Homo sapiens: one gene and its partner. The protein of the gene in region 1 interacts with the protein of each later gene in a pairwise test. Each region holds a gene or a part of one and is shown on either strand. Other genes may lie near its edges.

The links.
Region 2: the proteins of CCBE1 (region 1) and STX11 interact in binary tests that used the Homo sapiens proteins (3 or more experiments, as listed by UniProt).

The regions. Positions count from the first base shown.
Region 1 is NC_000018.10:59,435,323-59,442,620, forward strand, and holds part of CCBE1 (collagen and calcium-binding EGF domain-containing protein 1 precursor), read right to left. Parts: intron 4,495-7,298; coding exon 4,355-4,494; intron 4,257-4,354; coding exon 4,221-4,256; intron 2,825-4,220; coding exon 2,789-2,824; coding exon of another isoform or gene 2,719-2,788; intron 820-2,718; coding exon 586-819; 3' UTR 1-585. UniProt on the Homo sapiens protein: Required for lymphangioblast budding and angiogenic sprouting from venous endothelium during embryogenesis.
Region 2 is NC_000006.12:144,188,250-144,192,470, reverse strand, and holds the end of STX11 (syntaxin-11), read right to left. Parts: 3' UTR 532-4,221; downstream 1-531. UniProt on the Homo sapiens protein: SNARE that acts to regulate protein transport between late endosomes and the trans-Golgi network.

The DNA of each region.
Region 1 (7,298 bases):
AATTGAATTTGGGAAACAAGGTTTGACAAAGGGATACAATATTTAAAGTCTACTAGAAGCACAAGGAAAAAATTCTCCACCAAAGCACATCGACACGTTTGTCCTCCCCACCCCTTTTTAACTGAAGAGCCCCAATTTTGATACTAGAGGAGTTATGGTCTATTGTGAACACACATCTTAGAAGTAGCCTCACATTTTCTTAGAGCTCACTTTGTCATTTTCCCCCTTTTGATACTCTGCCAAATTTAACTTCAAGAATTTATGATTTAAGACACTGTGAGAGTACTTAAATCCAAAGTTCCTGGAAAAATAGGATGTAAAAGAAAAGTTACAATGCAAACCACCCCAATGGACTCTTAGTGAGAAGCAGGTAAATCAATCATTCACTCCCTCATGTCTGCAGGCCTAGGAGGGGACTCTGAAAATAGCATCGTATTTGGAAGAAGAGGAGTGGAGAGACGTCAGGAGAAGAGAAGAGAAAAATGTATGTTTTCTAGGTCTCCAGTGGTCTTTCTTCTCTTTAGATGGTTTAACTGCAGGTGAGTTGATCTTTCTCTTCCTTTGGCGTGACGGTGTTGGGATGTGCTATGGGTAGAAGTCTCTGGGGGCTCTCAAGTCTCTTGTCTCAGTTCTTCTTGGATGGTCATCTCCAGAGCCCAGGTCCATGGCTTCTGGGTAGCTGGGAAATTCCTGAGGTAAAGGGAACTCCTCTGCTGAAGAGTGAGTCCGGTGCCCGAACACCTTTTCCTGCAGCTCAGTGATGTCATTGCGGATGTCAGCCAGCATAAGTAGCAGGAAGTCGAAAGAACCAGGGGGTCCCTGTGTACATGGGAGGAATCAAAGCTAGAATACGACAGACAGCAATGGCCTCCGGGGCTCCATGACTTGACCTGCTGCTTGCTGGCAACTACTTTCTCAATAACTCTGTGCCCCAAATGGAGCCAATGTGAGGACTGCTACAGGAGCCTGGGGGTCCTCCATATTGTTTTCTAATTCTGTCACTTCTCAGCTGAGCTTTGGTGATGTATTCACCTTTCCTCCCTCCTAACGCTTTATCAAATCCAGTAGAGGAAAGGATATAAGAATAACTCTCCTAGGTTACTTTCCAAAGCAGTCTGGAAGATGCTTATGAAGGCAGCAGAGCAGTGGTTAAGAGACTGGGGTTCTGTTGGATTTGAATCTCATCTCTGCCGCTTACTAGCTGTGTCATCTTAATTTCTTGTGGTTCAGTTTCCCCATCTGTAAAACGGGGATAATAATAGTCCCAACTTCATAGGGTTTTGTAGGATTCATAAGTGAGGATTTAAGCAAGTAAATACGTGTAAAGGGCTTTGAGCATAATACGTATTCAAAAATGTTATCTGGGCCAGGTGTGGTGGCTCACGCCTATAATCCTAGCACTTTGGGAGGCCGAGGTGGATGGATAGCTTGAGCCCAGGAGTTCAAGACCAACCTGGAAAACATGGTGAAACCCTGTCTCTACAAAAATTTAACAAAAATTTAGCCAGGTGTGGTGGTGGGCACCTGTGGACCCAGCTACTTGGGAGGCTAAGGTGGGAGGATCACTTGAGCCCAAGAGGTCGAGGCTGCAGTGAGCCAAGATTGTGCCACTGCACTCCAGCCTGGGTGACAGAGTGAGACCCTGTCTCAAAAAAAACAATGCTGTTATTTTTTAAAAGCAAAATTATTAAAATGTTTATAAGATGGCTGACTATAAGCACAAACTAAATGAAGTTGAGAGGATGTTGTAAAGACGTCAACTCCTCGTTGACTAGGAAAGGTCCAAACAAAATCTTCCTAATTTTTCTATGTATTGAGTATCCTTTATCATCATATAGTATTTACTAAGCCTTAATTTCATATAGCGCTGTGTGGGGCATGGTAAAAAAGAAATGCACAAACACGCATGTTCTGGGCTTGTCAGAAGCTTGTAGTAAAATCGTTATCATCTCCCGCAACTGCTGCTACAGCAGCGGGCACCGTGGAAGCAGAGCTTACACCGTAAAGCACTAAGAGAGGCACAGTATTTTCATATCATTTGACCCTCACAGTAGCCACTTCAGGGATGGCAGGTCAGATTCCACTATCGCCACTGCACAGTGGGGGGCAAGAATGCCCAGAGACCCTCAGTGAAGTGCCCGTGGTCAGAAAGCCAGCAGGTAGAAGAGTTGAGATGGGAACCCACGACTCCTACCTCTGTGGCCACAGCCGCTGGATTTCAGAAATGATACTTCTTCAGAAGCAGTGACGTGGTTTGAATTTTCTATGCTTTTGAATACTACTATTTCTCATTTTTAATCTCCCAGATACTATGCTTATATGCAGCTAATTTCTTCTCAGGTCCTAAACAGCCCTGCGTGGTTTTGCACTTTTTAAGAGGAGATGGCCATCTGGCCTGCTAGGGTTGCAGCAGTGGCTAAATTCTCAAGTACGCAGAGTTATGATTTAAACCCATAGATTTCCTTCCTAGACCTTTCAAATGTTTTATGATAATACTTGGAAACAGACTCATGGCATAGCAGGGTTTTGAGCTTTAGGAAAGACATTTCAAATAAAGATTAGCCATGATAAAAGAGAAAACAGCAACAGAAAACAAATTTGAAAAATAAATCCAAACTAGCAGCTAAGGGCTTCTATGACTCTCTTCCTAACCACAGAGTTCTGTTCAGGTGGGCTGAGTGGCATCAGGAAGGGGCGGGCTTTTGCTACTAGACCAACCTATAGGCTCATCAGAGCTGCATCCCTGAGAACGTTCCCCTGGGGAAGCAGGACACAGAGTGCTACTTACTGGAGACCCTCTGGGCCCAGGCGCTCCTCTCTCCCCCTAAAAACAGAAAGGCCAGGGTTAGCTTTCTAGAGCACATGGATATCACAAGAATAGTCTCTATTTATACACCCACCATAACCACTTCCCTGCACAAAACAATAAACATTTTCTATAGAAAACATATGTAAAACTGAGCTGGACTCACGGGACCACTTATTTGAACAGGACTGCTTGGGTCAAGTGTCTCTCATTCTGATTTCCCTCAAGCCCATCTATTTTCAAACCTTCTTGGCAAGAGGAATGTTCATATTTCCCAACAGCATGTGGAGTAACAAACTTTCTGAAGTAACTCACACTGACTTCTTTGTGAGGCAAAAAAGAGCAGGCAGCTCTCAGAGGGGAACCACCCTGCTTGCAAAAAGAATGGAGCATCTCCTGTTCCTGAGAAATCTCACAGAAATGGAAACACACAAAAAGCTATCCCGTAAAGCAACACTGGTTAAAGAGAAAAACACATGTGAGAATCACAACACAGAGGCTCATTTAAAATTTACAGGGGTCACTTTTCCTATGAGTGGTTGTGGTGGTTGTTTTTGTCTTTGGGGTTGGTTTTGGAATTGAAGACAATGGCTTTTCAGATTTTGTTCCCAGCTTTGGGGAAAAAGTTCTATCTGGTATCTGTGTCTCACTTCTGCTGCATGCAAAATGGGGTTGGTAAACAGTGTCTGGTGAGCTTTCCTGGATGTCAGTGCAAGAGGTAGAAAGTGAGAGACCTTCAGGCCGGGAGCGGTGCCTCACACCTGTAATACCAGCACTTTGGGAGGCTGAGACGGGCAGATCACCTGGGGTCAGGAGTTTAAGGCCAGCCTGGGTAACATGGCGAAACCCCGTCTCTACTAAAAAATCCAAAAATTAGGCCGGGTGTGGTGGCTCACGCCTGTAATCCCAGCACTTGGGGAGGCCGAGGTGGGCGGATCACGAAGTCAGGAGATGGAGACCATCCTGGCTAACACGATGAAACCCTGTCTCTACTGAAAATACAAAAAAATTAGCCAGGTGTGGTGGCGGTCGCCTGTAGTCCCAGCTACTCGGGAGGCTGAGGCAGGAGAATGGCGTGAACTCGGGAGGTGGAGCTTGCCGTGAGCTGAGATCGTGCCACTGCACTCCAGCCTGGGTGACAGAGTGAGACTCTGTCTCAAAAAGAAAAAAAAAGAAAAATCCAAAAATTAGCCGGGAGTGGTGGTGCACACCTGTGGTCCCAGCTGCTTGGGAGGCTGAGGCGGGAGAATTGGGCTTGAGCCAGAGAGGCAGAGGCTGTAATGAGCCAAGATTGTGCCATTGCACTCCAGCCTGGGTGACAGAGCAAGACCATCTCAAAAAACAAAAACAAAACAAAACAAAAAAATCGAAAGTGAGAGACCTTTAGCTTGTGAGGACCACTCATAAGGCTTACCTTAGAACCATCTCTTCCTGGTGCCCCTGGTGGACCCTGTAATACAAAAGGATCTGGTTTAACCACAGGCAAAAGCATGGGACAAAAACACATTTTCCCCCAAAAAGGAAGTGGATCTCTGATAAGATACTGACCACAGGGCCCCTCCGGCCTTGCTTAATGTGGGACAGATCAGGAGATGGTCCCATGGGTCCCATTGAGCCCCGTGGGCCGGGCTGCCCAGGAGGGCCTGGCATACCGGGGAAGCCTGGGCTTCCCTTTGGTCCTGGTGAGCCTGTAATCAAAGAACACCTCATTAGCTCACAGCACATGAGAAGGACAAAGGGCCCTGGCTAACAAGAGTCCAGGACCCCTGCAGCCATTTCTCTTTGTACTCTCTCTGCCTTTGCCTTCTGACATCTCCATCAGGCTGTCCCACAGGCATTTTAAACTTGATACGATCAAAAGCGGCTTCCCCATCTTCCTCTCTTTTCGCGGACTGCCAGTCATACATCCACTCAAGCCAAAAACTGGAGAGTCTTCCTCTATATTTCCCTGTTTCTGCAACCTCCTTTTTGAATCAGTGGCCAGCTCCTGTGCATTTTACCTCTTTAACATCTCACAGCTGTCTGCTCCCTTCTATCCACTGGATCACAGCAGAGTAGTGGCCACCACCACAGAGAAGTGGTGATCATGGCTGGAGAGCAGTACAGGTTTTAGCATCAGGGAGACTTGGGTTTGAATCTGACAAGTTGCCTGAGCCATCTGAGCTTTAGTTTCTCATCTCATCTGTAAAAGTGGGCTAATAAAAATCTTCCTTATGGAGTAGTTGCATTACATGAGATTTCAGATATATACACAGCACTTAGTATAGTACTTCACACATAGTAAGTACTAAAACATCTGCTAGGCCTTCCTTATATTTGCTTTGACTCTTGCCTCATTGCTAGTCTTTCTGCCCCGAACCAGTCTTTTCACCCCTTGCCCATTTTTGATATTTCTATAGGGATGACACATCTAAAACAAGTCTTACTATGTAACCCACCTACTTTCAACCTTCTGGTGCAAATGTCTCAAGGCACTCGGTGGGTCAGCAAACTCACTCTCTCTTGCAGGCCCCAGAGAAATATCCCTTACTTCTTAGTGAGGGGTAGGAAATGTTCTTCTGGCTAAGATTTGCCACAGGTACAAGGCATGCTGGGGGATGAGTTGGGGGATATGGGGAAGATCATCTCACCCCAAGGCCCAGAAGCATAGGTCATGCTTAGGATTGCAGCTGGAGCAGGAGAACTGAAAATGTCCCGTTGCCCCACAACTCTAGCATGGAGTAAGTAATAGCAATCTACAGTGTGGGGAGAGAACCCCTCTGTGGCACAGGTGTGTGTGTAGGGGCTGCTGAAAGCTCAGAGTATAAACACTGAGAAAAATCCACTGGTAACCTAGGCCTCCACTAAGCATAAGGTAACAGCATCCTTCCATTGGAGGAATTATTTGAAGACTGTGGAACACAAAGTAAATATAGTGACAATAAAGCCAAAACCCAGCTCAGTTATTCATTAGGTTGACTTAGCTTCCCATGGCAGTGGCCTGACAAAAGAAGAGAGTACCCATCTCCAGGAGTGATAACCATGTGCCTCAGTCTCTACTGTTTCTCTGCAAATGATGTCTGGCATTCAATCCAAAATTTTCAGACATGGAAAGAAAAGGGCTGGGCACAGTGGCTCATGCCTGTAATCCCAGCACTTTGGGAGGTTGAGGCGGGTGGATCACCTGAGGTCAGGAGTTCGAGATCAGCCTGGGCAACATGGTGAAACCCCATCTCTACTAAAAATACAAAAATTAGTCAGGTGTGGTGGTGGGTACCTGTAATCCCAGCTACTCAGGAGGCTGAAGCGGCGGTTGCAGTGAGCTGAGATTGTACCACTGCAGTCCAGCCTGGGTGACAAAGCGAGACTCCATCTCAAAAAAAAAAAAAAAATCAAAACAAAAAAACACATTGTCAAGTAATAGAACAATCAGCAGGACAAGCCTCAGAGGGGACCCAGATGTTGGAATAATGAGATATGGGCTTTAAAATAACAGCATGTGAACGGTGCTGTTGGAAAAGATAAACAGTGTGTCTGAGCAGATGAGGGATTTCAGCAGAGAGATGGAAATTAAAGGAAAAAGTCAAATGGAAATGAAAAATATAATATCATGTATGAAAACAATATAGGCTCATCAACAGACTGCTCCCAGCTGAGCAAAGAATCAGTGAACTTAAAGATAAGTCAACAGTTACTCAAAGTGAATCACAAAGAGGAAGATAAAATGAAGCATCCAAAAGAGGTGAGATAATATCGAACCATCTAACATAAGTGTAATTGGAGTCCAAGGAGAAAAAGAAAACCCTACAGTGGCTCCCCTCTGCATAGAGAATAAAGCTCTAACTCCTCAGCATAGTATCCTTGTTCATTCTTGTCTTTCTTGCCAAGCATTTTTTCCATGATTGCCTCCTTCCTAATTGCCCCATAGTCCCATCCTCCCTGAATAAACCATACCATAGCACACAATCCAGCTCACACTATTCTTTCTGTCTTGTCTCCATCACCACAGATCACCTATCTCCAAAAACATTTTAACATCTCCCCCGTCGTACCAACAACTATCATCAGACAGGCACAAAAACAGATGACTTGTTAAACTCGGTATAGTCTCAGTGCTGTGTCGATACAGGCTTCTGAAAGTTAAACTCGGTATAGTCTCAGTGCTGTGTCGATACGGGCTTCTGAAAGTAAGAATTAACTGCTTTCTTCATTGTACATGCTTGCAGTATATCTATAGTATAATGTGTGTGTTTATATGCATTCATGCACTGTACATGTATGTGTTTTCTGTTTATGTGTATCATTTTCTTCCGAGCATTCTTAACATTTAAAAATTGGGGCCAGGTGCGGTGGCTCATGCCTGTAATCCCAGCACTTTGAGAGGCTGAGGTGGGCAGATCACTTGAGGTCAGGAGTTTGAGACCAGCGTGGCCAACACAGTGAAACCCCATCTCTACTAAAAATACAAAAATTAGCTGGACTTGATGGCAAGCGCCTATAATCCTAGCTGCTT
Region 2 (4,221 bases), on another chromosome or scaffold:
CTATAGGACCATGAAAATATAGAAATATAGACTAAGAAAAATAGAAGAGGTCCAAGAAGTGTCTATAGATGCTTCAAATAGAATATAAAATGTAACTTAAAAAGAAACATCAGGAATTAAAAAATATAGTGTTGGGGACTTGTCTCTCAATCCTCATTTTGCAGGGCATCACTGGTTTTATTGTTGTTGTTTGCTTGTTTTTTGAGACAGGGTCTCACTCTGTTGCCAAGGCTAGAGTGCAGTGGTGCGATCTCAGTTCACTGCAACCTCTGCCTCCTTGGTTCAAGTGATCCTCGTGCTTCAGCCTCCAGGGTAGCTGGGATTACAGGCATGCACTGCCATGCCCAGCTAATTTTTGTATTTTCAGTAGAGAAGGGGTTTCACCATGTTGGCCAGGCTGGTCTCGAACTCTTGGCCTCAAGTGATCTGCCTGCCTTGGCCTCCGAAAGTGCTGGGAGTATAGGTGGGAACCACCATGCCCGGCCAGATATCACTCGTTTTAAAGCATCCTTTGTAGTCTCACTCAGAACATCAGTTCCGAAAATCTTTATTATCAATAGACACATGACTTTACAAAAGCTTCTAGTATATAAGGACATCTTGCCCATTCTTAATAACGTGTTGATAACAAAGACACTCATCATTTATATGATGAAGTTACATTCTAGATCCTATTCGTTTTCCATTTCTAATAGCCCCATTTTATTAATTGCAATGATTTTCAACTCCGCTATCAAAAGGAAGTCAACTGTTGCTCTGATTACAATTGGGTGTTTCAAACTATCGTCTTGATTACAAATGAATGAGTTGCATGCTGCAGTTGGAGATACTTCGCATACTTCAAAGAAAGGAGTAGAAATATGTCTGATGGTAAAATATAGAATGATAGAATTTATACATAAAAATCAAGACTATAGTTACCCTATTTTTTTTTTTAAGCTGTACACAATCTTCAGTAGTTTCCTGTCAAGTTAGGAACTTTATATGTTAGAGCCTGAACATATCTGCATATGACATTTAACTATAAAGCATTAGGACTGTTTTTAAATAAATGTAAAGGCATTGATATAAAAAGAGTACTGTTCTCTTTTTAAGTTGTTACCTTAAAAGGCCATAAAATTACTTCTGTGATGTCACAGTTCAAATATTTTTGAATGACTGACATTTTTAAAATTCTAACTCATATTATCCTGGATACCGATGCATACTAGATGAGCACCTTTCCTAGTTAGGACATTTCTGGAGTTGTTACCACCTATAATCTGTGGCTTGGTGGTAGTTGTAAAATTTGATATTTGGCTAGTAGAAAGTAGTCACTGTATATGTTAAAATAGCTATAAAAGATTCTTACCTTCAGCTCCTGAAGGATCTATTGTTCTTTGTGATTTGTTCTTTCATTTTGTACCCTAAAAGATATGAGTGTATAAAATTTGCAGAATTGCCACAAGGTCTTCTTGGCCAAAGTCACCTTTCAGAGTTGCCAAGCAAGCATCATGAGATTGGTAAAGCCAGCTCTACAGCATCTCTTGGTGGCACTAGAACACAATTTCTTAAGGAAAAAGCCAGCATTTCACCCACTGCCTGGTGTGGCAGTCAGAGCCAGGAAGGGCTTTGGTGAATAGGCCAGGACGTGCAGTGGGCCAAATGATGCCTTCTCTTAGGTCAGTGACCCAGCCTCTACAACTTCCTACAACTCCTTCCAGGACTTTCTGACTCACAGCTTGGGAAGAATTAGGAAAGAACACCTGCCAAGCTGAGCAGAACAGCTGCTTCCTGCTTACGTGTTTTTGGTGGAACATCTCATTTCTTCTTCAGGACATGTTTGGATATACACAGGGATAGAAATGCCATAGTGAAAACATCTTTATGACTGTCAAAAAAAAAAAAGCCCTAATATTCACAGAAGATGGGGTCTTGGTTTCTTTATTCCATTTTATTATTTATTAAGACTGTTAACAAAAAATAGGCTTTATTTTTCCTCTGTACTTAAAAACTATAAATTTACTTGGGTCACTAACAGTGCTCTCAGTCTGAGAGAAAATTACATAATAACAACAATAATGAACAAAGCACTTAGCATGTGCCAGGCACTGTTCTAGGTGCTTTTACATATTCAGTCATCACTTTTCACAACAGCTCTATGAGGTAAGTACTGTTATCTCCGTTTTACAGATGAGGAAACTGAAGCACAGAAAAACCAAGGTTCAGTCAGACAGCTAGTATGTGGCAGAGTCAAGATTTAAATCTAAGAAACAGGATCTGGAATCTGTACTCCTAACCATTACGCCACACTGAGATGGTTCCCAAACAGCAGGAAGAAGAAGTGTTCTTTCCCTATAGGTAACAGTTCACTCATTCTTTTGGTGCAGTAATGGACAGTCTGTACCGAACTCTCCAATATAAAACGTGAGGAATTAAAATGTATATAGAGCCTGAAAACTCACTTACTTTTATAATGGTTCCAAGCAAAGAAAATGCTTTATGGGTTCAAACATGTCAAATTTATGAACTCTTCGTTTTTTTGTGGAAACTGGCTGGCAGTCTCTATTTACAATATCTCTCCTCTATTATAAAAAACATTGCAGTGGAGCTATGTGAACATTTTTTCCCCTTTCCCTTAGAGAAAGCAAATTAAGTCAAAGGTGATACATATCCTTGGAGTTGGCTGAAAAAGAAATTGGGAGAAATATGAGAATAGCCTTGTGGAACTTGGTTTCCACAATTCTCAAATTTAACCATGAAATTAAAATTAGATACAGGGGATAGATTTTCCTGGTCATAAGCAAGTCAGGCAGTGAGCTCCAAAGAATTCACATACTCCTCCTTCTAATTCTTTTAAAATTCCAGCTTCTAAAGGACCTGAGAAATATGATCACTACTAAACTCACTCATGTATTAAATAATGATTAGGAAGAGCTAAGAGTTGACACAGAGGAAGGCCAGGAAACATGGTAAATGTGGGTAAGGGCATTAAGAAGTTTGCAGACTACACCATATCTCTAAAGCCTCATGATTTTGCTAAAGTATTGTAACTCAGGAGAGAAAGCAAGACACCCTCATGGGAATTCTTTTGAGTTTTTCATTCTTTTCCCCCTCCACTCAGTTCCATCCAGATGTGGCAGCCTCAGTAGCTAGTAGAAAAAAAATTTGGCCAGGGTCAGTGGCTCAGGCCTGTAATCTCAGCACTTTGGGAGGCCAAGGTGGGCGGATTGCTCAAGCTCACAAGTTTGAGACCAGCCTGGGCCACATGGCAAACCCTGTCTCTACAGAAAATACAAAAATTAGCCGGGCATGGTGGCACATATCTGTAGTCTCAGCTATTTGTAGGCTGAGGTGGGAGGATCACTTGAGCCTGGGAGTTTAAGGCTGCAGTAAGCCATGATTATGCCACTGCACTTCAGCCTGGGTGACAAAGGGAGACCCTGTCTCAAAAGGGGGGAAAAAAGGCCAGGCATGGTGGCTCACACCTGTAATCCCAGCACTATGGGAGGCTGAGGCGGGCGGATCACGAGGTCAGGAGATCAAGACCATCCTGGCTAACACGGTGAAACACCGTCTTTACTAAAAACATAAAAAATTAGCCAGACATTGTGGCACGCGCCCAGAGTCCCAACTTCTCAGGAGGCTGAGTCAGGAGAATCGCTCGAACCTGGGAGACAGAGGTTGCAATGAGCCAAGATCCTGCCACTGCACTCCAGCCTGGGCAACACAGTGAGACTCCATCTCAAAAAAAAAAAAAAAAAAAGGAAAAAGAAAAATTTTAACAATAATTGAGAAAGTAAACTAAATGGTCAAGCCAGAAATGTATAAAAATATGTGTATAATGTAATGTTTATTAAGCTTGCTTGAAAAACAGAATTCTTTTACTTTGAATTTCTCCATTTCAATGCATGGAAGGAATGGTCCACAGTAAAACAAAAGCAGTATTTCCAAGAATGTTAGTTGTCTCTAGCTCCGTATACATTTTCTACCGCCATATGTCTACCGCCATAACCAATGCAGAGTTGTTTAACATGAAGTTTGACCCAAACTGGACTAGGAAGGGGCAAACTGGAGTGAAACAAACTCAAAACAAGCAAACCAATACCAAGAGCCAGAAAAGTGTTCGTCTTGAAATTTATATACCATACTTACATAAAAGAAGTTAAACCAATTGATCATTATGTACATATATTAGTGAATATTAGTATTTTACATTTACATACATGTGCATATGTAATC